Homo sapiens: one gene and its partners. The protein of the gene in region 4 purifies or fractionates together with the protein of the main gene of each other region. This does not show direct contact. Each region holds a gene or a part of one and is shown on either strand. Other genes may lie near its edges.

Evidence for each region.
Region 1: the proteins of DHH (region 4) and SERPINA5 purify together in Homo sapiens (affinity purification with mass spectrometry; one large-scale study listed by BioGRID and IntAct). This does not show direct contact.
Region 2: the proteins of DHH (region 4) and MAN2A2 purify together in Homo sapiens (affinity purification with mass spectrometry; one large-scale study listed by BioGRID and IntAct). This does not show direct contact.
Region 3: the proteins of DHH (region 4) and FKBP14 purify together in Homo sapiens (affinity purification with mass spectrometry; 2 studies listed by BioGRID and IntAct, with this or other methods). This does not show direct contact.
Region 5: the proteins of DHH (region 4) and VPS50 purify together in Homo sapiens (affinity purification with mass spectrometry; one large-scale study listed by BioGRID and IntAct). This does not show direct contact.
Region 6: the proteins of DHH (region 4) and ITGAV purify together in Homo sapiens (affinity purification with mass spectrometry; one large-scale study listed by BioGRID and IntAct). This does not show direct contact.
Region 7: the proteins of DHH (region 4) and EIPR1 purify together in Homo sapiens (affinity purification with mass spectrometry; 2 studies listed by BioGRID and IntAct, with this or other methods). This does not show direct contact.

The regions. Positions count from the first base shown.
Region 1 is NC_000014.9:94,584,426-94,587,925, reverse strand, and holds part of SERPINA5 (plasma serine protease inhibitor preproprotein), read right to left. Parts: intron 581-3,500; 5' UTR 564-580; coding exon 1-563. UniProt on the Homo sapiens protein: Heparin-dependent serine protease inhibitor acting in body fluids and secretions. Inactivates serine proteases by binding irreversibly to their serine activation site. Involved in the regulation of intravascular and extravascular proteolytic activities.
Region 2 is NC_000015.10:90,909,802-90,913,301, reverse strand, and holds part of MAN2A2 (alpha-mannosidase 2x), read right to left. Parts: intron 3,213-3,500; coding exon 3,010-3,212; intron 2,802-3,009; coding exon 2,619-2,801; intron 2,456-2,618; coding exon 2,341-2,455; intron 2,132-2,340; coding exon 2,064-2,131; intron 1,918-2,063; coding exon 1,752-1,917; intron 1,260-1,751; coding exon 1,023-1,259; intron 786-1,022; coding exon of another isoform or gene 761-785; coding exon 638-760; intron 426-637; coding exon 311-425; intron 30-310; coding exon 1-29.
Region 3 is NC_000007.14:30,020,203-30,023,702, forward strand, and holds part of FKBP14 (peptidyl-prolyl cis-trans isomerase FKBP14 precursor), read right to left. Parts: intron 2,615-3,500; coding exon 2,463-2,614; intron 103-2,462; exon of another isoform or gene 11-102; intron 1-10. UniProt on the Homo sapiens protein: PPIase which accelerates the folding of proteins during protein synthesis. Has a preference for substrates containing 4-hydroxylproline modifications, including type III collagen. May also target type VI and type X collagens.
Region 4 is NC_000012.12:49,086,156-49,088,978, forward strand, and holds the end of DHH (desert hedgehog protein preproprotein), read right to left. Parts: 3' UTR 501-2,823; downstream 1-500.
Region 5 is NC_000007.14:93,294,866-93,298,365, forward strand, and holds part of VPS50 (syndetin), read left to right. Parts: intron 1-1,876; coding exon 1,877-1,971; intron 1,972-2,279; coding exon 2,280-2,378; intron 2,379-3,500.
Region 6 is NC_000002.12:186,663,056-186,666,555, reverse strand, and holds part of ITGAV (integrin alpha-V isoform 1 preproprotein), read right to left. Parts: intron 2,789-3,500; coding exon 2,721-2,788; intron 2,063-2,720; coding exon 1,915-2,062; intron 1,431-1,914; coding exon 1,338-1,430; intron 1-1,337.
Region 7 is NC_000002.12:3,255,819-3,259,318, forward strand, and holds part of EIPR1 (EARP and GARP complex-interacting protein 1), read right to left. Parts: intron 1,638-3,500; coding exon 1,481-1,637; intron 1-1,480. UniProt on the Homo sapiens protein: Acts as a component of endosomal retrieval machinery that is involved in protein transport from early endosomes to either recycling endosomes or the trans-Golgi network.

The DNA of each region.
Region 1 (3,500 bases), on a different chromosome or scaffold from region 4:
AGCAAGTCCACAATCTTGCCCTTCGTTTGCTTTGCCACATAATCATTGATCTGCTTCATGGCCCCTGCAGAGTCCCTAAAGTTGGTAGGGAAAGTGTCTGCCAGGTACAGCGTCTTCATGGCACTTACGAAGGTGTCCTGCAGGTCTACCACCAGGTCGGTGAAAAGGGCATTGCCGAGGCTCAGCTGGAAGCCATCTCTGGGCTGGTTGAGTTCCTGAAGGAGCTGCTGAAAGCCTCTGTGCAGCTCCTTCTCTGAGCTTTTCTGGAGGTTGAGGCCCAGGCCCTCCAGGATCTGCATCTTTGTGCTGGACCCAGCCCCCAGGGAGAGCATGGCCAGGCTCATGGAGATGCTCACAGGGGAGAAGAAGATGCTCTGGCTGGGGGCAGCGGAAGCCAAGGCCCTGTAGAGGTCAAAGGTAAAGTCCCTTCTGCTGCTGGGGGCCACCGTGGCACCTACATGGAGGTCCTCGACTCTCTTCTTCATCTCCCGGGGGTGGTGGCGGTGAAGGGAGGCCCCCTGAGGGCTGAGAAGCACCAGGCACAAGAGGAGGAAGAGCTGCATGGTGGCTGTTCTTTGTTCTGAAAGGGAAAGAAGGTGTCCTCAGAGAGGGGTGGAGCTGGTCCAGGTGCTGACTTTCCAGAGATGTCCCCACCCAACACTCAATGGGTATGTTTGGTCCATTCAGCTTCAAAGAGAAGGGATGGCACCCGCAAGACTGGGCATGAGGGTTTACACAGGGTGGCAGTGGCTCGAGGACAAGATTTAGGGATGACGGGGAGAGGAAGGAGGGAGAGGAGGTGCAGACCCAAGGCAGGGGTCTGGCTGCCAGGGCAGGAATCCTGTCTACCCATCCACATCAAGGGACACATTTTGGAGGATGGGATATGGAGGGAGAGGGTTCCCTCTGCTCTGCTCTGTCTCATCAGCATCTCGAGGTTACCAGGGAACTAAGCTGCTTCCATGTGAGCTTCTGGCCTTCACTCTGGTGTCCTGGTTTGGCACATGGCAGGGCGCTGTGGTCCTTCTATGAACTCAGACCAGCTACATGCCTGGGACCATCAGCACTGCTGGCCTTGCCCTGTTCATTCAGCAAACGCTGAGTGAGTGTCCACCCTGGGGTAGGCAGAATACCAGTATGCAAACTGTCCCCTTCTCCTTCCCCCAGGGGCTGCTCCATGCCACCCTTGTCCCACAGAGAGACATCTTCCCCTCCTAAAGGAATTCTGCCTGAACCTCTTCATGTGGACATCCCCACCGTCCTCCTGTTCTGGCTGAATTGTGCCCCCAAAATGCATATGCTGAAGTCCTTACCTTCAATACCCCAGAATGTGACTATATCTGGAGATAGGGCTTTTAAAGAGGGGACTGAGTTAGAATGAGGTCACTAGAGTGGGCCCCAACCCAATATGACTACGTCCTTACACAAAAATTAAAAAGAGGAGATCAGGATAGAGACATGCACAGAGGGAAGACCAGGTGAAGACAGGGAGAAGGCAGCCACCTGTGAGCCAAGGAGAGGGGCCTTGGAAGGAACAAATCCTGCTGGTGCCTTAATCTCAGACTTCCAGCTTCCAGAGTTGTAAAGAAAGAAATTTCTGTTGTTGAAGCCCCCTAGCCCCTGGGACTTTGTGACAGCAGCCCATGCAGGCAAAGACATCTTTTCATCTTCCAGATGAGGAGGCACTCATCTTTGTCTCTAGCTCTTCTCAGGGAGGCCTTTGTGGGGTCTCCCATCACTCCTGACGTGGCCTTGGCCTTCAGTCCTCCTCTTCCTCCCTCCACTTCACCCAAGAGCCGTTCCTGTGCCCATGCCTCCCCATCTGGCTACGGGTAGAAGTCTTGCCTCCTCCCTCTGCAGTAGGAAACAGCTCAGGCTCTGAAGCCACTGCCTGGGTTCAAATCTCAGCCCTGCTGTGTCCTTGTAGTGTGATTTTGGGCAAGTCAGTTACACCTTGAGCCACTGCTCCATAACTGTAAGATAGTGATAATAACAGCACCTACACCATGGGGTGCTTGGGGGCACGTGCTATGGAAGTGTGAGCAGTAGGCATGGCAGTTTCTGGCAAAAGCCCCATCTGAGGCCTCCATATTCTCAACTGTACCATAGGGTACATGCTTTACACACACACACACACACACACACACACACACACACACACGTGTGAGCCTGACAGCACCCAGGCTGGCTAATTACCAGGTGCAGAGGGCCTGCCTGGCTTCTGATGTGAGCTTTGCCCTGTGTGTCGCCTTGGAGGGAATCCCTTTCTGCTGGGCTCTCTCCATGGGCACAATGTCATCAGTGACCCCAGATCCCCACCAGGCAGGGGCAGCCTGTCACAGCATCCCGTGACCCAATTAAAACCAAACTCCAAAGGGCCCCAAACAGGTGGGTGGGAAATCCCTTGCAGAGTGGCCGTGGGGCTCAGCAGTGGAGAGAGAATGGTCTCAGGAATTGGGCAGGCTTGGACTGCAGGCCTGTCTTTAAGTGAAGTTGAATAGCTCCAGCAGGTCACCCTTGCCAGCCCAGCCTCCAAATTGTGTCCTGAGCTCCTTCCGAGAAGGAGCCTCATGTAGAAGTTTCTGCCTGCAGAATCGAACCTGGCACCAAACCCAGCAGCCACAGCAGTTGGGCGCATTGCCCGCACCCTCTTTCAGGCACTGTGCCAACTCCTTCAGCCCTGCACCACCCAAAAAGGTACATCTTGCTGCTAGCTCTATTTTACAGATGGGTAATCCGAGGTTCAGAGAGATGGAGTCGCTTGCTAACACTGGCAAAGCTTGGACTCAGACTCGGTTATCACTCTGACTCTGCAGAGTCCTGCCTCCTCTGCAGAGTCCTGCCTCCTCTTTTCCTGGCTGCATCTTCCTGATTTTGAAATCCCTGACTTAGTAGCCACCAACAATAGCCCTAATCTGCAGATAATGAGTGAGCAGAGTCTGGGCTTCCCCCCACTGACACTCCCTACCTGTTCCCACCATGGCACTTGCCTGGAGAGCTTTGAAGGACATAGGTGGGTGCTTTAATCTCCGGCTTCTCTAAATGAGTCTATTTTACAGCACAATATGGTCCCTCCTGCCAAGGGTTGGAACCAGCCATGTATGGAGATGCTTCTAAAGAAACAATGTGGCTCAACCCCCCACAGGGTCACACTGAGCTGATAATTTCGAGAACAGCTTCAGAAGCAGGGGAGTTTCCTTATTGGATACAGCCCAGGGGCAGCTGACCAGAGAGTCTCAGTGAGGCCCTGGCCTCCATTCTCCCATCTATTCAGCTACTAGGTCACCCTGGGCAAGCCTCACCCCCTCTGGGCCTCAGTTTCTTCATCTGCAGTCTGCCATGTGTTGTGGACACCCCCTCAAGACCCCGCCCCCTGCCAAGCACTAGAGATCCGATGGGGAGGAGCTGCTTCTCCGGGTGTGCACTGAGTCTCCCCCAGGATCTGTTTGGAGAGGGCCCCAGGTTCACTTAGGCTCTCCTGGGCTACATGTTTGAGACCC
Region 2 (3,500 bases), on a different chromosome or scaffold from region 4:
TGATATGTCCAGAGACAGCCCCTCCACCCCTGGGTACAGGAACAAAGTGGGGGCATGGACAGGTGTGAGGCTGAAGCACAGCTAAGAGGCTGGGCTGGGGGATCAGAGCCGAGCTGGGGAGAGGCTCTGTCCAACCTCCCAAGAAATCCCCAGGGCATTTCTGGATGACTTTTTCTCCAAGAGAATGGAGCATCCCTGTCTCAAATGATACGGAACAGAGGTATGAACAGAGAAGCAGCAGAAGGAAGAATACGCCACAGTTGTGGAGCCCACACCTCCTTCCAGACCCTTCCTCATATGCAGGGCTCACCTGGCAGATTGTAAAGCCGGACCGCCTGGTGAATGTGCTCATAGTACGCAACCACCTCTGAGAAGAAAGGGCCTTCAGTGACACGCAGCACGGGGGGCTCCTTGGGGACGTAGGGCTAGAGAAAGAGCAGATTGCTGTTGAAACTACAGCACAGAGGGCAAAGCAGGAAGGTGCCAGCCCAGGGCTGGGCAAGAGAGCACCTATTCCCAGACACCCCTGGGCTGAACAGGAAAGACAAGGCCCCTGGCAGGCAGCAATAAACCTGTGGGAAGGCCTGTGCCCCCTCCTGCCCTCCCTGCCAGGTTGTTCAAGGCATCTTTAGGATACCTTGGCCTCGCCATCGGGCAGGAAGAGGTAGGCTCCACTCTTGTCTTTGGACGTACGGGTGCCATAGACAAGGACCTGCATGTCCACCTGCTGCTCGTGCTCCTCATCCACCCTTCGGATGCTCTGCCAAAAAACACAGCCCTGACCCCTGGCCCCACACCAGCATGTCAGGCCTGCCTCCTGGGAGGACACGGAATAGCTTCCCCAAGGAGCCGTGCCCTGCTTCCCCATGCTGTCAGGCTGGAGCTGAGATGGCCCAGGCCCCGGTCCACTGTGGGTCAGGTGGCAGAATGCTCACAGGGCCGGGAGGCCGCTCTGCACAGTGCCACCACCACACACGCCCTACTCTGGCCCCTGGCCCTTCCCCACCACCCTGGCCTTTTACCTTGAGGAGCCCAGTAAGGCCTGAGAACCAGACCTGCATGTAGCGGTTGCTGAGGGCGAAGTCGCTGGTGCCAGAGTCAATGACACGGAGAGGAAACGCTTCGTGCCTGCTGACGGACAGCTGCCGGCCGTGCAGGTAGATGCGCACAGAGGAGGGCAGCGTGCGGTGCCCATCCAGGCCCAGCTGTAGCTGCAGCACGCCCAGGCCCAGGGCTGGCAGGCGGACAGGCACAGACACCTGTGGGCACAGGAGGGGTGAGGAAGTGGGGGCACGGCTTTCGCCACAGGGGTGCTGAGGCATCCGCTTACTAACAGAGGGCTTGAGCAAGCCCCTGCACCCGCTGGGCCTCTGCCCCTCCTCCAAAGTGGAGGTGATCTGATTTGCCCTTTCTTCCTCATCAGACTTTATGATTCTCAAGTGATATTTGAAAAAGTATGAAGCGGTAACAACACATTAAGCTTTCGATAAACATTGAATGACTGAATGATGGGGCATTATAACTGCTATTTTTACCATTACTATTACCATACCAACCTTCCCCTTCTTTTCAAGGACACGCTCAAATCCCAAGAGTGCCTGTCTTCTGGACAACCCCCTCCCCAGGACACTTGTCCTCAGCCTGGAGAGTAGCAGGGCCACAAGCAGGAGGGTGGGAGGCTGGCGTCGCCGGGCGGGGAGGGGCCCACGACGGGCAGAGGGCCAGGCCCACCTGACAAGCCCACACCTCACCTGGTAGACGTCAGGGACCGCCTCGGTGGCAGAGCTCCAGTGTGCGCTGATCTGCACGGCCAGGGGCTGACCCTCCTCCGAAAGGACACGCACGCGGGGAGAGTTGACCAGCAGGGACACCATGCTGAATCGCTCCTGTTCCAGTGGGTTGAATAGGACCACAAACCTGTGCGTAGAAGGTGGGCTGACCCAGGAGGCTGCTGCTTCCGACCAGGGCAAGCGCCCTGCACTGGTTCAGCACATGCTGGGGCAGAGGGGCCTGAGAGCCAGGGAATGGCTCTGCCTCTCTGCACATGGCGTAGTCCAGGTTACCTGGGCGAGGAATCCAGCTGGATCACCGTGCGCTCTGGGAGGGCGTCGTGACTTAAGCGAGTGTCATCCTGGAATTCAGTGAGCCGGAAGGGAAGAACCATCATGGGCTCAGCCTCCTCCCACCCCACCTGTCCCAGGTGTGGACCAGCGGCTGCACTGGGCACAGAACTCATCCGGATGGGGAAGGAAAAAGAGAAGCGGCACCCCCATCCAGCAGCTCTTGGGATGGGACCTGCACACACCAGAGGGTCCCCATGCAGACCCAGGAGGGGCTCACCACTTGGAGGAAGGGCGCCTCAGGGTCAAAGTGGTAGGTCTCCTTGTCCCCCAGCACCAGATAGTGGGCTGCATGAATGATGACCTGCTTCAGGTTGACAAGGGAGCGCAGAAGCCTGTGGGTGGCGCAGGAGAGGGAAGGAGAGAAGATGACCATAGGGAAGCTGTCTGCCTTGTCAGCAGGACAAGCCCTAGGCCGGCCTACCCCCTGACCACCCAATGTCCTTTCTTTGGGACAGTGAGCAGGGGAGCTTACAAGGGAAAAGAGAAGGCTCCCACCTGACCCCATAGTCCACCACCACAGCCTCCTTGGCCGTGCCAGTGATGGCATCGTGATGCTGGAAGAGCCCCAATGTGCGCCGAGCTTCCGTCAGGAGGGTGAAATCAGACAGTGGGTACCGGCCAGCCAGACCAGAGCGGCGAGCGTGAGCTGCAGCCAGGCTGTACAGAACCTCTGCCCCCCTGCCCAGAGAGAGAAGTTAGCTGCCAGCCTGCACCACTAGCCAGGGCCCACCCACACTCTGCCAGTGCAGCCTCCTTCCTTCCCACCCCTCCTCTACCTGCCCTGGCCTCTGGGCCTATCTATTCCCTTCTGAGCCAATCCAGCCCCTCCTTAAACCCCAAAGGCTGACTCTCCCCCTCCAGCCTGGAAGCGGGGACAGGGTCTCACCGCAGGTGGGCTTCCAGGACTCGGTCTAAGCTCTTGTAGAAGGGCCGGGAAGTGTAATAGCCTGTCCAGTAATGATCCTCCCGGTCCGCATAGGAGAAGAAATCCCCGCTCAGCACAGGAAACCCTGGAGGCCGGGCCCCTGGCTCCACCCCTGTCCTCTTGTACAGGGCATCAAAATAGTCAGAAAGAGTGCCAAACTGGGCCTGTGGGAACCCCAAAAACCCACTCCCATCAGTTCTAGAGCCTCCTGCAAATTGTGGCCACAGTGCTGCAGTTGGGGGTGAGGCAGGGGCTCTGGCCTCAGAAGCAGGAACTGTACATCCTGCCATTCTAGACTTAACAGAAGTAGGGGAGCCTGGGAATTAATTCTGACATAAAAGGGGCACCTTCGGCTGGGCGCGGTGGCTCACGCCTGTAATCCCAGCACTTTGGGAGGCCGAGGCGAGTGGATCACGAAGTCAGGAGATCGAGACCACCCTGGCTAACACAGT
Region 3 (3,500 bases), on a different chromosome or scaffold from region 4:
TGAAGCTTACCATTTCAGATCTAGACAGAGATGTGACATGCGCTAGGTTGTTGATAAAACTGGTATCTTTCCAAAAGAGGCATGCAAGCATGTACTAAAAGACTACAAAATTAGTGTTAAATACAGATTAGAAAAATTAGTTTCATGGCATTCAGTTTGAAGGAAATGACTCAAATTTAGATCTCTACTTATTGTGAAGTAAACTTGAGTTAAATATAGTATGAGAAAGAGTAATGGACTAATACAACGTACAGTAGTCCCCACTGGGATATGTCCCAAGAATCCCATTAGATGCCTGAAACCATGGATAGTACCAAACCCCATACATACAATGCTTTTTCCTATACATGCATATCTGTGATAAAGTTTAATTTATAAAATAGTCATAGTAACAGATTAAAAATAATAAAATAGAACAATTACAACAACATATCATAATAAAAGTTATATGAATGCAATCTGTCTCTCATTCTCAAAATACCTTAATATTTTCAGACTGCAGTTGACCACAGGTAACTAAAACGGTAGAAAGTGAAACCACAGGTAAAGGGGAACTACTGTATGTAAATATTAAAGGTGAGACAATAAAGATAAAATGAAAACATTCTCAGCATCAGAAAAAATTTTCTAGATACTTGGTTTTCTTCTCTAAAGAGGATTATGACTAAAAGAAGAATTGAATTTGGTTAGTTAATCTTATCCTATGAACAAGATTTGTATAGATTTGTATATTTTGGAATATATAATGCTTGCCATATGGCATCTATTTTCCTTCTCAGGAAATGGGCTGTGAATCCTGACTCCTCACTTTTGTCAGTGGTTAACCTTAGACTTCAGGATGCTATGAAGTCTATATTTATACTATATCAGAGTAGTTGTCTGTCTGGTTCTGATGACTACTTAAACTTTTTTTTCTTCATTATGTAAGTAATACATGCTCATTGTAGAGCACATACTTGGATGATAAAACCAGAAATAAATATGATTCCCAGTATCACAGTCCATTTTTAACATTCTTATTTATTTCCTTATGATTAACTTTCTATGTATATGTACCTTTTCCTATATTTACTATCATATATACTATAGGTTTATTTTCTACTTTTATATATAATACTGTATCTCATGCATTTCAGATATAATTTTTAAACTCTTTGGAAATGCCATTTTAAATAACTGGGCCATATTTTATTTAGCTAAATTCTTACCAGTATACCACTTACGACAGTTCCAATTTTTTGCTTAGAAACAATGCAATTATGGACATCCCTGTTCACAAATTTTTTTCCTGATATCTAATTATTCCCTTAGGTTTGAAGGAATTATAGAATAAATGCATATAGACATCTTCAGACCTCTTTTTTTTTTTTTGAGATGGAGTTTGGCTCTGTCCCCCAGGCTGGAGTATAGTGGCACGTTCTTGGCTCATTGCAACCTCTGCCTCACATGTTCAAGCAATTCTCCTGCCTCAGCCTCCTAAGTAACTGGGATTATAGGTGCACTCCACTACGTTCAGCTAATTTTGTATTTTTAGTAGAGACAGGGTTTCACCATGTTGGCCACGTCGGTCTCAAACTCCTGACCTCAAGTGATCCACCCTCCTTGGCCTCCCAAAGTGCTGGGATTACAGGTGTGAGCCACCATGCCTGGCCCAGACCTCTTGATATATATCACAAAGCAGCTCTTTGGAAAGTTGCAGGGGTTCTCACTTGAACAGCAGGATATGTGTCTGCCCTGAAAAACTAGTACAAAAGCTGTCCGGACCAGCTAGCCAGCTTGCTTCTGCTTTGTGACACAGGGAGAATTAAATTCATTTCATGTCACTCTATGATTTTTTTTAAATACATTGTTAAAAACTTTATAAATAAATTTAAAAACGGGAATGAAAAGAACTCCCAGTTTGCTGTGGGAGACTTAATATTCATGAAGTACAACCCATATATAACCCACATCTAAAATGCATTCAATACTTTAATAATCTATATTTCACATGTTCAACTCATCCAAACACTTACGTTAATGGATCTTTCTCTCTGCATTGTTAAAGTAAATTGGTGAGTTTCAGTTTGGGAAGATGAGAACATTCTGAAGATGGATAGTGGTGATGGTTCCACAATAACATGAATGTATTTAATGCCACTGAACTGTGTACTTAAAAATGGTTCAAATGAAAAATTTTATGTATATTTTATCACAATTAAAACAACCCACCATATTTGTGAACAGTATTAATAGACCTCAATGTTCTTTTTTTATTGTTAGCATAGTTGCCCATTTAGACATTACGGCCTTAAACTGGCCATTTCAATTGATACTCAAGACATAATACAGTTGCTAAAGGAATACATACCCCCTATTAACTTCCAGGGGAAAAAAAAAAGTTATAGTGACTCTAACTTCTGTCTCCTAATCCAGAGAACAACTCTAGTGCTATAGTAAGAAAAATACAGAAATACTATTACCTTTTCCTTCTTTTCCATAGCCCAGAGCAGGAGGAATGATGAGCTTTCTCTTCTCTCCTACACACATTCCTTTCAAGCCCTGGTCCCAACCTTTGAGAGCCTCCAGGATGCCCAGGGTAAACCAAATGGGCTGACCATTGTTATGTTTGTGACTATGATAGAAATAAAACACATTAGAACTCCTTATTAACTCTAAAAAATTTTCTTTAGTGCATTTTCCCACCAGTAAGTGGTTAAGTTTATTAGTTTAAAAATTTATAAATACAGCAATTCTGTATTTGCACACATACACACACACCTCCAAGTCAAGTTTATAGGAATTCAATTCACTGCCCATCTTTCTTGATGCAAATTTCACATACTTGACTGGGCTTAAGAAAGACAGAGGAAATAATAAAAACAACAACCATTTGAACATTTGTTGTATACCAGGAATTATTCTAAATTTTATTTTATTTTTTGCCTCTTAACCCTTACAATAAGTCTATAATATAAGTACCATTACTACCCCATTGCACAGATGAGGAAACACAGGTTAAGTTCCAGTCTTTAAACCTAACTCCAAAGTTCAAGGTCTTAATCACAAAGTTATGTTGTCCCAGGAAGGCCACTAGGTTGCAGAACAAGGAGAAAATAATGGAAAAATGGCTGAGTTTGGGAAGGAGATTGAAAGGCTAAGGAGAATTTACTGCCAACATATGTGGGTCCATATGCACACAGATATGAAGAGTGAGAAGCACAGTGTCTTATATCCTGCCTACAAACTTGCCTTAGCTATGGCCTGCTGATGGCTCTGACGGGTAGAAAAGGCTGCTTTTCATCCCTAAATCCCCACTCAGACCCTAGCCCAGTTTCCTCCTCAGGGGTCTACAGTGGGGCTATATAGGAAAGTCTGGAAGAGTAGCCCCTCAAGGACTGGTGTGTTAGTCCATTTTCATACTGCTATGAAGAAATATTCAAGACTGGGTAACTTATAAAGAAAAGGAGGTTTAATGGACTCGCGGTTCCACATGGCTGGGGAGGTCTCACAATCATGGC
Region 4 (2,823 bases):
GCTCAGTAACCATTAGCTACATATTGTTAAACTTCCAGTCTTCTGCTCTAAATAAGTTGCACAGCTTCATCTCAGATTCCGAGTCCTTGCTCATGATGTTCCTTCTGCCTGGAATGCCCTTTCCAGTCTCCTCCGCCTACACATGCTTCAACATCCTAGTCAGGCCCTCCTTTCTCCACAAGGCCTTCTCTGTACTAATATGGCATTTACCACCGGTTCAGCTCATCCAAATTAAGTAACAATGTTAAATATTTTCTGTGTTTATGTATACTTCTCCAGGGAAGAAGCTGTTTCTTAACCTTTTGTGTTTTTCAGTGGGGAATACAGGGCTACACTGCAGATGTTCAGTAAATCCTGCTTGAAGAAAGGAAAGAAGGAATAAAAGACTGGATTCTGGGCAGATAAACAGGTCACTTGAAACTTTTCGGCAGTGGTTCTCAACTCTGATTTCTCAATATGCAGAGAGGTATTGCCAGGGTGATCACAAAATGCTTCATAAATTCTCAAAACAAGATTACTTTTAATTATACTTCTTCAGAAAAGTAGTTTCAGGCACTACCTGGAACCCCATTATGCTTTCACCTCCTTGACTACTGAGCTCAAGGGTCACAAAGGTGAGGGACATGAAGAGTCAACTTCTATATGTAAGGAAGTCTGGACTACTACAGAAATGCTGCTAGTATACCTCCAGCTTCTGAAAGTGCTGTGACAAAACCCCAGAAAGTTTGCACGACTGATGCTTTTAGTGGAGTGGTGAGGAAAGAAGTGATCGGAAGGCAGCAAAGTCAGTCAGAAGTGGCCAAAGAATAGAAAACATTTACTGAGCGCCTACTCCACATCCAGCACAATCCTTCTCAACCATCCTGTCACGGAGGTATCATTATCCCCAGATCTAGCTGGCTTCTAAGCCAAATCATCATCGCCTATTTTGTTGATGGTGAAAGGTGCTGCAATTGGGAGGTGTTGCATGGCCAAGTGAATATGCCCACCTGCTGCACCAAGATGGTGCGCATTGCCGCTTGAAGGCAAGTCATGGATTTTTTTTTTTTTTGAGAGTTAGGAGGGGCCTCAAAGGAATAAAGATAATAAAGGGAGGAAGTGAGGGTTGAGAGGTAAGCCTCAAGCCTAGAAAGTTACTTACAGGATGTAGTTTAAGGGAAACCAATGAGTTCTCCTTGTCCTGAAATATCTCCCTAGCTAACTTATTACAGTGCTAGGAATCATCACCATTATGATTTTATGGTTAAAGGTTAAAACTGTAAGATATATGTATTACTGCTGGGCACAGGGGCTCACACCTGTAATTCCAGCACTTTGTGGGGCAAAGGCGGGAGCCCAGGAGTTCAAGACCAGCCTGGGCAACGTAGCAAGACTCTGTCTCTACAGAAAATACAAACATTAGCCAGGCATAGCGGCATGCACCTGTAGTCCCAGCTACTTGAGAGGCTGAGGTGGGAGGATTGCTTGAGCCCAGGAGGTTGAAGCTACAGGGGACCAAGGTCACACCACTGCACTCCAGCGTGGGCAACAGAGCGAGATCCTGTCTCTTTAAAAAATACATGTATATATATATGCATTACCTGATTACCTGGGAAGGGCAGTAAAACCAAGGAGCCCATCAACATAGGACAACTAATTCATTTATCGGATTAGTCATCACCTGTGGTGACATGACAGGAAGGCACCAGATCTGATAAAAAGAGACAAGGGCAGGTTTAGAAAGTAGGAAAGGTCCACAGCTTGGGATGTGTTTCTGAGACCCGGAAAAACAAAGGTGGCAACAGAGCCTCAGTGTGGGTTGAGGGCAGCAGTGGGTGGAAGGACACCAAAGGTAAACTTGACCTGCTTCCAAATATTGCCTTTATCAAGCACTACCTGGAACCCTATTATGCTTTCACCTCCTTGACAATTGAACTCAAGGGTCATGAGGGTGAGGGACATGAGGCGGCAACTTTGATACATAAGGAAGTCTGGGCTACTACAGGTATACTAGTAGGGCATCTGCAGCTTCCAGGAACCACAGAGCTAAACTAGGCAGGAGTGATGTAAAAGTGCCATGGTTTGGAACGACTTGCCCAAGGAGAAGCAGGTGGACTCCTTGACAGCTCCTGATATGTGTGACTCAGCGCTGGCAGCTTAACAAGGCCCACCCATCATCTCTCCCTCCTGGGAGCGGGCTCCTTTGCGCAGGTCCAGTACACCCTTCCATGTCTGAGACCGCTTGCCTTCCGTTTCAGAGAACCATATGCATAGGCCTAGAATTCTCTTGAAGGCCACCAGAGGGCGGTGTATAGCAGGGACCCTGTGCGATGGGAGCGCACAGCGGCTACTGGCAAGGGCGAGCTCCGGGTGGTACCAACAACCCCCGACTATTTCCTCCTCCCCGCCTCACCTCCACCCAAGACACTTCCCTTCTGGAGCAGCCCAGCTTCCTCCAGAGCTTCCATTCCTAACTCAGGGGCACCTGCCTGCCTGGATTCCAGGTGTCTACTGCGTTGGAACCTAAAGGTTCCAAAAACACCCAGGCTAGGGAAGTAGAGCTGGTGATAATGGGAGAGGGAGGAGGAGGCGCTGAAGACCAAGCCAGTAGAAACAACAATCAGGGCCAGCGATCAGGAGGGGAGCTCGGGTTGTAATGCTGATATGCCCTTGTTTAGGGAATCTACTTCCCCCACATACACCCAGGCTGAATCCATTCTCTCTCTCTGAGCAGCCCTTCAGTAAGGAAATATTCCAGCCTCTTACTGTGCCCCCCTTCCTTTTTCAGGCCATGACTATGCGACGATTGCAAATTATTACCCAGGTTTCCCATGGATCATCAGT
Region 5 (3,500 bases), on a different chromosome or scaffold from region 4:
TGAGTACATCTTTTGTTTTAGAGGCCTAGCAAATTTCCACTATCATAGAGAAATGTATGCTTTCTCAGTGAGATGTTCTGTTTATTATTTCATTTATCTGTGTTTTCTTAATTTTTTTTTCTGTTAATTTTAGAAAAGGAGTAACTAAGTAGATAGCATACTTAGGTCAGATTATAGTTTAGAATGAATAATTCTTTTTTTCTCAGTCAATGATCTTTGTACCTTGAGGGAATCTTACATGCTTATTGGCTGAATATATCTGGTTTTAGTCCATTTGGGCTCCTATAACAAAATATTCTAGACTGCATAGTTTATAAACAGAGAAGTTTATTTCTTAGAATTCTAAAGGCTGGAAGTCAGAGATCAGGGTGCCAGCATTGTTGGGAGGGAGGGCCTGCTTCCTGGTTCATAGACATTGTCTTGCTGTATCCTCAAATAGTGGAAGGGATGAAGGAGCTCTCTGGGGTCCCTTCTATAGGGGAACTAATCTAATTAATGAGGGCTCTACCTTCACGATTTAATCATCTCACAAAGGCCCCACCTTCTAATATATTATCACCTTGGAGGTTAGAATTTCAGCTTCGGAATTTTGGGTAGACATGAACATTCAGACCATAGCAGTATCTTATTAAGTTTTTCTTTACAATTTAGTAACTCAGTTGTTGTAATCAGATAATTTGTTACTTCTTAGATCACAGTGTAATTTCTTTGAAGATAACTTACTCTTTTTGGACTTCTTTGAACCTTGGAAGACTATAGACCCTTTGGCCATGTTATGGTCTTTTAAAATGTATTTTTGATTTTTCTAATGAGGCTGATCTTTATTTTGACCATCTTTTTTTTTCTTTCTTTCTTTTGATTGATTGATTGATTGATTGAGACAGGGTCTCACTCTGTCACCCAGGCTGGAGTGTGGTGGCAGAGTCATGGCCCAGTGCAGCCTCGACCTCTTGGGCTCAGGTGATCCTTCTGCCTCAGCCTCCTGAGTAGCTGGGACCACAGATGTGCACCACCATGCCTAATTTTCTTAAATTATTATTGGTGGATATGGGGTCTTGCTATGTTGCCCAGACTGGTCTTGAACTCCTGGGCCCAAGTGATATTCCTGCCTTGGCCTCCCAAAGTGCTGGGATTACAGGCATCAGCCACCATGCCCAGCTTGACCATCTTTTATAGGATATGTTTTGAAAAAAATTGTTTAGGAAAATATATTTTGAAAACATAAATTTCTTCATGAATCAGTTAATATTTATAATTTAGTGCTCTTCTAATTTTTGATAATTTTGTATTCGATATGCTATTTGATTTTATGCTTTAGTATTTAAAATTTATTTTTGTGGTTGTAAGAGGTTTGACATATATTTTCTCATTTGTCTATATTAAACTCATAACCATATTAAACATTTATTAAAATTAAATATTTAATTTATCATTAATTGTGGATTTAGGCTGACTGTTTTCTGAGTATTATGCATAAAAAGAAAGGAAAATCTTATAGTTATTGAATATACACCCAGGATCAGATATGATTTGTTTCTGACTTAGTCTCCCAATAGGCCTTAAGTGTACTTTGGTAAAATTTTACAATCTATGATAGAATTTCTGGTAATTCAGTGTACTTTGAAATACTGACTTAGCACTTTATGTAGCTACTTTCCATTCAGTTTGGCAACCTGATGGCATTCCTGGTATAGGAAATGGGATTGTCTCTATTACATCCCTTAAGGATGTTGGCTATTGGCCTAAATAGATATTCGTTAACAAATTAGGAATATATTCCTGTCTCATTTTAATCTGGAACTATAGAGTAAATGCTTCTGATAACTTATTTTCTATATTTTGGGTTTGCTTGATTTTCTTTTTCTTTGCCTTACAGGATGTTCAGCTAAAAGTAAAAACCTACTTGCTTGGAACTGATTTGTCTATATTCAAATATGATGATTTCATCTTTGTTTTGGATATAATCAGCAGGTAGTATTTAAGATCTTGTCTTATTCTTTAGTTTGAGTCATTCAACCATGATAAATCATGAGCTAGTGAGTTATCATCTATAACTTCTTTATGGAAATGAAGATAATTTTTGCTGCTAAGTTTGTGAGTGTATTTAAATATTTCTGCCCTTTGGGTGTTTGTAAACCTTTATGGATTTGTGATCTTTAGAATTTTTTCACATGTCCAAATTTTAGTGATTTTTTTTATCTTTGAAGAAAGAGAAACCACACTTCTTTTTCTCTATAAGGCTGCTGCTGAAATTTACTGAAACCTTTTTATCCAACTAGGTTGATGCAAGTTGGAGAAGAATTTTGTGGTAGCAAGTCTGAAGTTTTACAGGAATCTATTAGAAAACAAAGTGTCAATTATTTCAAGAATTACCATAGGTAAGAACTCTAATAAGATATGAATCGACTTATTTAGGTAATGAGAATACTTTTGTCTAATACTTAATCTTATAGCATTAATTGATTTTAAACAATTACTTTTGAATTTGAATGTGTTGTAGCTTTTTTAAGATGGTTAAGGATTTTTTTAACCAAAATATGATGAAATGTTCTCATTACATATTCATTGTACATTTTAATATATTTTTGTCTTGAGGGGCTTAAAATATTGAACTGATTTTTTAATGAGTAAAACATGATTATTATATCAAGGTTCACAGAAAGAATTTGGCCACTGTTCCATACCTGCATACATATGGGTGTGCTTATAAGGAAGTTAAATCAGTAGAGGCAGTGCTCAGTGAGGGGGTGCTTGAGAGTATCTATCTTTTAAATGTAAGAAGGATTCTAGAGGAGAGGATGTGATATTCAGAATTCCCCTATAAATCCAAATTTGTATACTGCATTGCTTTGCAAAACAATCACTGCTAATATTTAAAAGAGTGACTAGGAATGGTTTGGGTAGTGGAGGAAGGTGGGAAAGAATGTTTATAATAGCAGTGTGATTATATCCTTACAGCAGCAATAAATTGAGGGAAGGGAGAGCTAACATGAGATTTCTCTTGATATAAGCTAGACCCCAAGTTGTATCCCTTTTGTCCTTTGAGTTGAGTTTCATCTTACTTTTTATTCTGAACTTTTACTTTTTACAATTGAATTTAAGTTTTGATTTCCTTGTTATTTGGTCCCAGAGAGAGTCATGATTTGAAATTCTGCTTTTTCTCCTTGTTCATAGTCAACACCTGCTCACAGTGATATATGCCATGTCAAAAGAGAGATGACTGAACACCAAACCATTGATTAATTAATTATTATATATATTTGAATACAAGTTATCTCTGTTAATTGTAAACAATGAAGTAAATTGTTTGAAAAAGATTTAAATTGAACTATACTAAAGCAGAGCCTTTGAGTTTCATGACTGAGAATGTTTAAAAATTTTTTAAAAATTTAATTGACTAAACCTCAGGGAAACAGTGGGAAGGGACCAACAGGAAGCCCTAACACTGCCTTTATTTATAAGTTCCTTGTCTGCTAAAACTTAAGCCCTGACTAAAACAA
Region 6 (3,500 bases), on a different chromosome or scaffold from region 4:
TATCAAACCTATTTTACTTAATATACCTGGACCAATCCATAAGAGAGCCTATTTAACAACAATTATTAATCATAATTATACCTCCTTATAATACTAACCATCTTTCTAAAAAGTGCAAAAGTAAATGTTTGTTGATCCAGTGAAAGTCTAGCAACTGGGTACAATAATTTGATAACACGAAGCTAACCACCAAAGTATGTGCTGTGTTCATAGGCCAGGAAAGAAGAAATGGATGGTTTACTAGAGTAAGGGAACATGGCTAAAGAAGGCATGAGTAGGGCCACAACCAGAATTTCTCCACACACCTCTCATAACACTCCCAACACCAAATATCCTAATTCCTGCAGGCAGAAAATTGGTAGATTTTAAATAAAACAATTGAACCACCAGGTACAAAAAAGAAGGCTTCTTGGGGATCACACAAATGACATATAAAAACAGTACTTCCTGGGTTCTGCCTCCCACTCCACAAAACCTGGAGCTGGCTACTTGTAATAAGCAGAAACTATATAATAACCAGAAAGTTAGAGAGAATGAGAATATGAGAAAATAAAAGGCATGCTCATTGTTAATAAAACATTGAATACACGTGAAAAACTGAACTTAGGGTAATTTGTTCAAGTTCTCATCCCTAAGATACCATACATCTAGAAATACTAATGACTTGTAATAGAAAACATACTAAAGAAATATGGAATATTTAGACCTGTATTACCACAGATCTTCAAAGTACCAGTATCAATAAGTCATTAAATAAATTCTATTGAAAAAGTCACACAGCATATGCTGCCATTTTGTCCTTGCTACTAGAAATTCTACAAGGTATATTTTGTTTACTTTTTAGAGGATTCGGAAAGCAAGCCATTGGCTGCTTCTTTTCAAGCTCCTGGGCACCCTGCTCCACCATCTGAAGGGGAGCCTGATTTAACTGACCTTCACTTTGATCCTCTGTGTGGGGCCTGTGATGGAATCTAGCTCACCTAGGATTGACAGTCTTGGTAGTTGCCAGAGTAGCTTTTCAGGATCCATTAAGGCATCAGTGTAAAATAGCAAAAATTATTATTTCAGTCCTTAGTTTAAACCACGTTCTCATCCATTCACTAAAGTGAAGGAGGCATAAAGAGCAGCTGATTGCAAACCGTGTAGGAGCACAACCAATTGTTTTCGTATCTTAGTTAAAACTAAGCAAAACTCTGCTAATCATTTAACTATTATATCGAAACCAATTTAAGGACATTGTTTTGAAGTGTTTATTTTTAAAAATTACTATGAGCCCAGACAACAATATGCTTTTCTATTTGCCAGGGAGAAAAATCCGTTTAATTAAATTGTCTTACTTGAGTTCCAGCCTTCATTGGGTTTCCAAGGTCACATACCACCTGGCGAGTTTGGTTTTCTGTCTTAAATGCACAGGAAAGTCTTGCTAAGGCCTTTGATAGACCAAAAAAAAAAAAAAAAATGGATATGAAAGGAAATAAAGTATCACGCAGTTGGATATTTCAGTTTCTTGTCCTAAGCAAATAAATCTAGTTGAGCAAACCAGGAGGTAAGGAAAAAGCCAGAATTGGGTACAATTGCCACATGGAAATGCAGAAGTGTTTCTGAAAGATCCCTAGAGGACTACCATACAAAACCATACAGCCTCTGACAAATAATTTGATGGACAGGCTTAGACACTTTATCTATCTAACCTTGTTTCCAGGCACTTAGCTTGCAATTCTAAAAATGTCATATCAATGCATTATGCAAAGTATTAGGCTTAAAAGGAATTATGTAAGATAGGCACTCCATTGTCTATCAATTTAGCCTTAGGTAGAATAGCTAAGCTTGTGCTTCACTAAATAGGGGAACAGCTCATTAATGTTAATAAGATCCGTGAGTGCATTTCAATTTTTAAAGAGGCAGCCTGCTTACTTCATTGTTTCGGACAACCCCGATGAAATCAGCCTGCAGTGGAATGGAAACGATGAGCTCAGCTTCGTAGGCACCTTCTCCTTGATTCTGAGCCTTAACAATCAATGTCAGAGGGTTGTCATCCCCAATATAGATCTTCTTTTGATCACTACAAGTTAACAATACAAATCCAGACTGAGAAAAAAAGACTACATGGGGAAAGTATGACTGTTCAAAGAAAGAAGAGATAAATACACAGCACTGACATGTTCAACAGTGTCTCAAGGTATTTTAAGACTACTTCACAGCTTGATAGAAAACAGAAAATAGCACACTGGGTGCAAATCGAATGCTTCTCTCAATAAAAATAAACATTGATGCCACTAATATATCACTATCATTCATATCTATTACTGAAGTGAATTACATGTACTTTGTAATTCCCCAATATTTTTCTAAAAGCTAAATTAATCACGTGTCATAATTCTCACAATATTCTTTATAATTCATATGCCTTACAAAATGGTAAGGATATTCCTTGAGTTCAAAGAATGTTTATGATGAAGTGTATCTTTAAAATGATACAATATTATTTTGTGATATTACCCAAAGTTGAATGGTAATAACTCTTTCAACCTAGGCAACTAGTGAAAACACAGTGGATATTTTCTTTAGAAGCTCAATATTGATAGTTTTAGTGTTATAGAAAATCAGGCATTACCCTCCAGGATAACTAATTCTCGTTAAAATATGTTAGTCCTTTGAATAGAAAAATGTGCCCTTCCATTTAAATTTCTTACTACATTATTATTTCAAGCAAAACTTACCTATCTACAGAAACTTCCAGCTTGGGTTTACAGACATTGTCTTCACCACAGTCAAGTAGAATGTGAGCCTAGAAAAAAACATTTTATTTTTCTACATGAAAAATACCAATGCAGGTGGCATAAGCAGTGTTTATCAATATCTATGTGGTTAAGCCTATATGTACACATGTATATATTTTCAGATACTCATCAGCTTGTTTGTTGTATACCTGAATGCAAAAGAGACCATGGCCACTTATTTTTAAGCAGGTCAGTGTAGCCAGTCAAGAAAGAGAAAGAAGAAAAAGATTCATAGGATATGATACAGTTCCTTGGAACCTTTCAGTTTTATCTCAGATTAAGCTGTTATCATATTTGAATGAAGACTGGTGTAGAAAAGAAAGTAATAGCCAAGAAATGAGGCTTCATTTTTACCCTGCTGCTAGTTAAGTTGTGAGATGTTGGGCAAAATAGACTCCCTTCTAGAGTTTCTCATTATGGACTGTGCCTCTACCAATATCAGGAAATAGGGCTGCAGAGGATAAAAGAATAAGGAGCTGTAGATATTCAGCAGCAATTCAGACAGGCAGAGAGACCAAGGGGCAAAAGAAACTGGATAAAATGAGTCCAGCATTGCATGGTCATTTGGAAAAAGATGAAGGAAAAGGAACTTGAAGCATTATAGTTAACCAATCAGGGTAGGTGAAAAAAACAAAGACCTGAACTTTTTCCCCACTAGATCTGGCCAGGAGAATGTTCCAGCTAGAGCAAAATGGAAACACCCAAAAGAGAGAAACAGTG
Region 7 (3,500 bases), on a different chromosome or scaffold from region 4:
ATGTGCACACATACGTGTGCACAGAGACACAAGCACAAATGTGTGCACATGTGCATCACACACATGCGCACAAATGTCTATTTGCTGGGGATGTGGCAATCATTTGAAATGTGGAACTCCTAACAGTGCTGTGTGGTTTGCACAGAGATCCTGCATTCGGGCGGGGAGTGACAGCAGTGGCAATCACTCCTGGGGACTTTGGGACTCTTCATCTGCCTCCCCTTACTGTGCAAGACTGGCTGTGATTTTAATACTCAGAGCATCTCCGTAAGAAGAAATATCCACCGACGTGGTAGAAGCACAGCAAGTATAAAAATAATTCCACCACAAACTGATACACAGAGAGCATCCGGAGCCACAGACTGCCTGACCCTCAGCACTGCTCTCCTCCATACCTGACGAGGGAAACCTGAGTCGGTCCTCAGTCCCCGTTCCAAACTCCACCTCGTAAGCGAATCCCTCTTCAATTCCTCTAATAACAATTAATGGCTGCTCCTTCCGGGGCCACAGCGTACAGTTCGTAATGATTTCGGGGTACGCCACGGCTGGCCCAGCCACAGTTAGTTGTGTACACCCTGGGTCTCCCCGTGGAGATCATGACTCTCGGAGGCCGGGCCCTCTAACTTGTCACCTTGGTGTCCCTGGAGCCTGGCAGGGTTTCTGTAGCAGGTATTTAATAAGTATTTGTTGTATTAAATTTATTTAATTGGTAGAACTGACGAGACAGAAGTCACTGTACAAACGATTTGTCTCTTGCAGACACACACGCACATGTGTATGTGTTAATGCATTAAGTAAAACAATCACTATCGTTATTGTAAACACTCATAACAACAGTATGCCCCCGCAATCTCCTTTAGAAAATACGGCTTCTTAATTTTTACCAAGGCCTCAGGGCCTTCAGAGAGCAGCTGTGACTGCCGTGGAGAGGTCCCTGGGAATGACCAGTGGGTGCACACAGCCAGGCCTCCAAGCTCATGAAGCAGCGACTGGCCAGGGAGCCACGTGAATGACACACCACATGCCGGACACGGGCGGGCTTGGGCACGCAGCCCCACAGGCACACCACGCATTCATGCTTTGTCCACGGGAGGAAGGGATTGTAAGCCTCAACCTGAAGTGGTAAATAATTGCCATGTGAGTGTGAATAAGTGCATGCTGACCAAGCTGAAAAGCCACACAGCGCTCGAGGGCAGTGCAGTGCCTGACCCTTTACCCTCTGGCAGGTCCCCACGGGCAACACTCCTCTTAGATGAAGAGGAGAAAGTGGGGATGCAGGCGCGCTGGCTACATTTCTGTCAATGCGGCTAATCTAGAAAACACAGGGACTAAAATTAAAAATCAAATTCTCGCAGCTTTTTAAAAGAAAGGAGCGTTTCCGAGGTGTGGACGGTGGCTCCTGCAAAGGAATCTGCACAAGCTCCTGCACCTGGCCAACCTGCAGGCTCGTTCTGGGCGCATGAAATATGCAAAATCCTACCAGGCCATGTTGCCATGGGCTGTGTTGTCAAGGTGACAGAGCAGCTCCAGGGTCTGTGCAGTGCTGGATGAATCATCAGGGGACTCGTGGCTGCCTGATTCCAATTCCTTCGGCATCCTCCACACGGCTGCACATGTCAGGACTTTGCTGTCTGAAGCTGAGCAACAGAGCATAATGGATAATGTCAACAGAGCACGGTGTGCCCCGCATTCTGCAGACAGCACACGCACATTTACACAAATCCATAAGCAGCGCGCATCTGCTCTTTAAAATATGTACGATTGCAGGCAGCAAAGACGGAGCAGGGAGAAGCACAGCCTGAGTCGGCAGGCAGAACCCGGCACGGTTCGTAATCAGCATCCTGTTCCCCACTTTCTCTTTGTTTTAAAAACCATCATGCTGTTTCAAAAGAAAATTTAATTTCCTCAAAATCGATTTCCTTCCGTTCTTCTTCAATAGTTCTTCAAAAAAGGGAGCAAAATGGGGGACTAAAGATATAATCACCACGCACGCAGCTGGTGTCTAAGGTTGGCATTAAACGGGTTTTCTCTCCATAGCTGTATGAGATCACCTTAAATGACTATTAGGCACACTGAGCGATATTCCATTCGGAAATCCTGTCACGCATGTTATTCTGCCTCAGTTTACCTAAAGTGATGAGTATCTGGGACCGGAAGGTAATGCCATTCAGAGGCATCGCATGCTGAGGCCTGGAGCCCTGGTGGGCAGCAGGTGGCAGCCCAGCCTGGTCATGTCACCATCAATACAGCCTCTTCTCCTAGAAATGAGAGTGCCATCCTTACACGATCCTGCTGGTGGCTGCTCGGTCTCCCTGAGTCTTGATACTCTATTTTCAAGATGCTCCAGGAATCTAGAGTACCTAGAAAAGCCACTTTGTGGATAGAGACTCAACCTGCATTAGAAAGACTGGGGTCACTTGTTTCCAAGGAAGGTCTCTGATGCTCTAGAAAATTTCTCAATATGATAAATTTTTTAAAAATTAGATTTAACATTGAATTCTTGAACATAAATCCTTTCAGAATTTGCTTTCCATTTAGTTTTCAATTGAATATGTGCTAAACACCTCTCCCTTTTAAAGATGGCCTTTAATGAATAATCATAAACTAGCAAACAGGATTCAACATTAAATCATCAATTGATAACAAGTGAAGAACATAAAAATATTATATATTGCGTTAGAACATAAAAAAACATTTCATGGGTAGTACAAGAAGGAAAACAGCATGGCATTACAAAATAACAACGACCTTAGGTTACAATCGAAAATGTATCACTTACTGGTGATGATGCTCTTGCGATCTCAATATCAACTAATCGACCAAGCAATATAGCAACGAACTCAATGACAAAATATCTAACTTTGTGAATATTATTAATACCATTGTTAACCATGATTGAATGATAAGAAGTTAAAAGATTAAGACTTCAACCAGGATTTTCTGATTCCAAATTCAGTGACCATTTTATATACCATATTGGGTCTAAAAGAACATGCAATTATGGCTTAAAGAAAAAAAACTCCATCATATATTCATATAATGTTCACACTTCCAACTTTACAAAAATGGAGTGTACAGACAGTTCTGTCTACAAGGGAATTTTATTTATTTATTTATTTATTTATTTGCTGAAATTTTCAGTTACACGATCTTTCTGCAGAGCCCACGAGATTGGCAATGGCACTCCTGGAAACACAAAAATAACCAAAGGGAAAGTTGGCAATTTGGAGTAGGAAAGAAAAAAATGAATGCCTAACCCACTAGCACACACTAACCCAACAGAGGTGTAGATTATCTTAATCTTTCTAAATGGTAGAAAAATACATGTCTAATCTTACAAGTTATAGAACTAATAATGGGAGCACTAAATTGTGGCTGCACTTCAAAATGAATGAAATACACAAGATGACAAAGGCAGGGAATAGTAAAAACAGCTATTCTGTGGAAGAAATGACTAATGGCAGACACTCCCCCCCACATCCCCAACAAGTTCCTTCTTT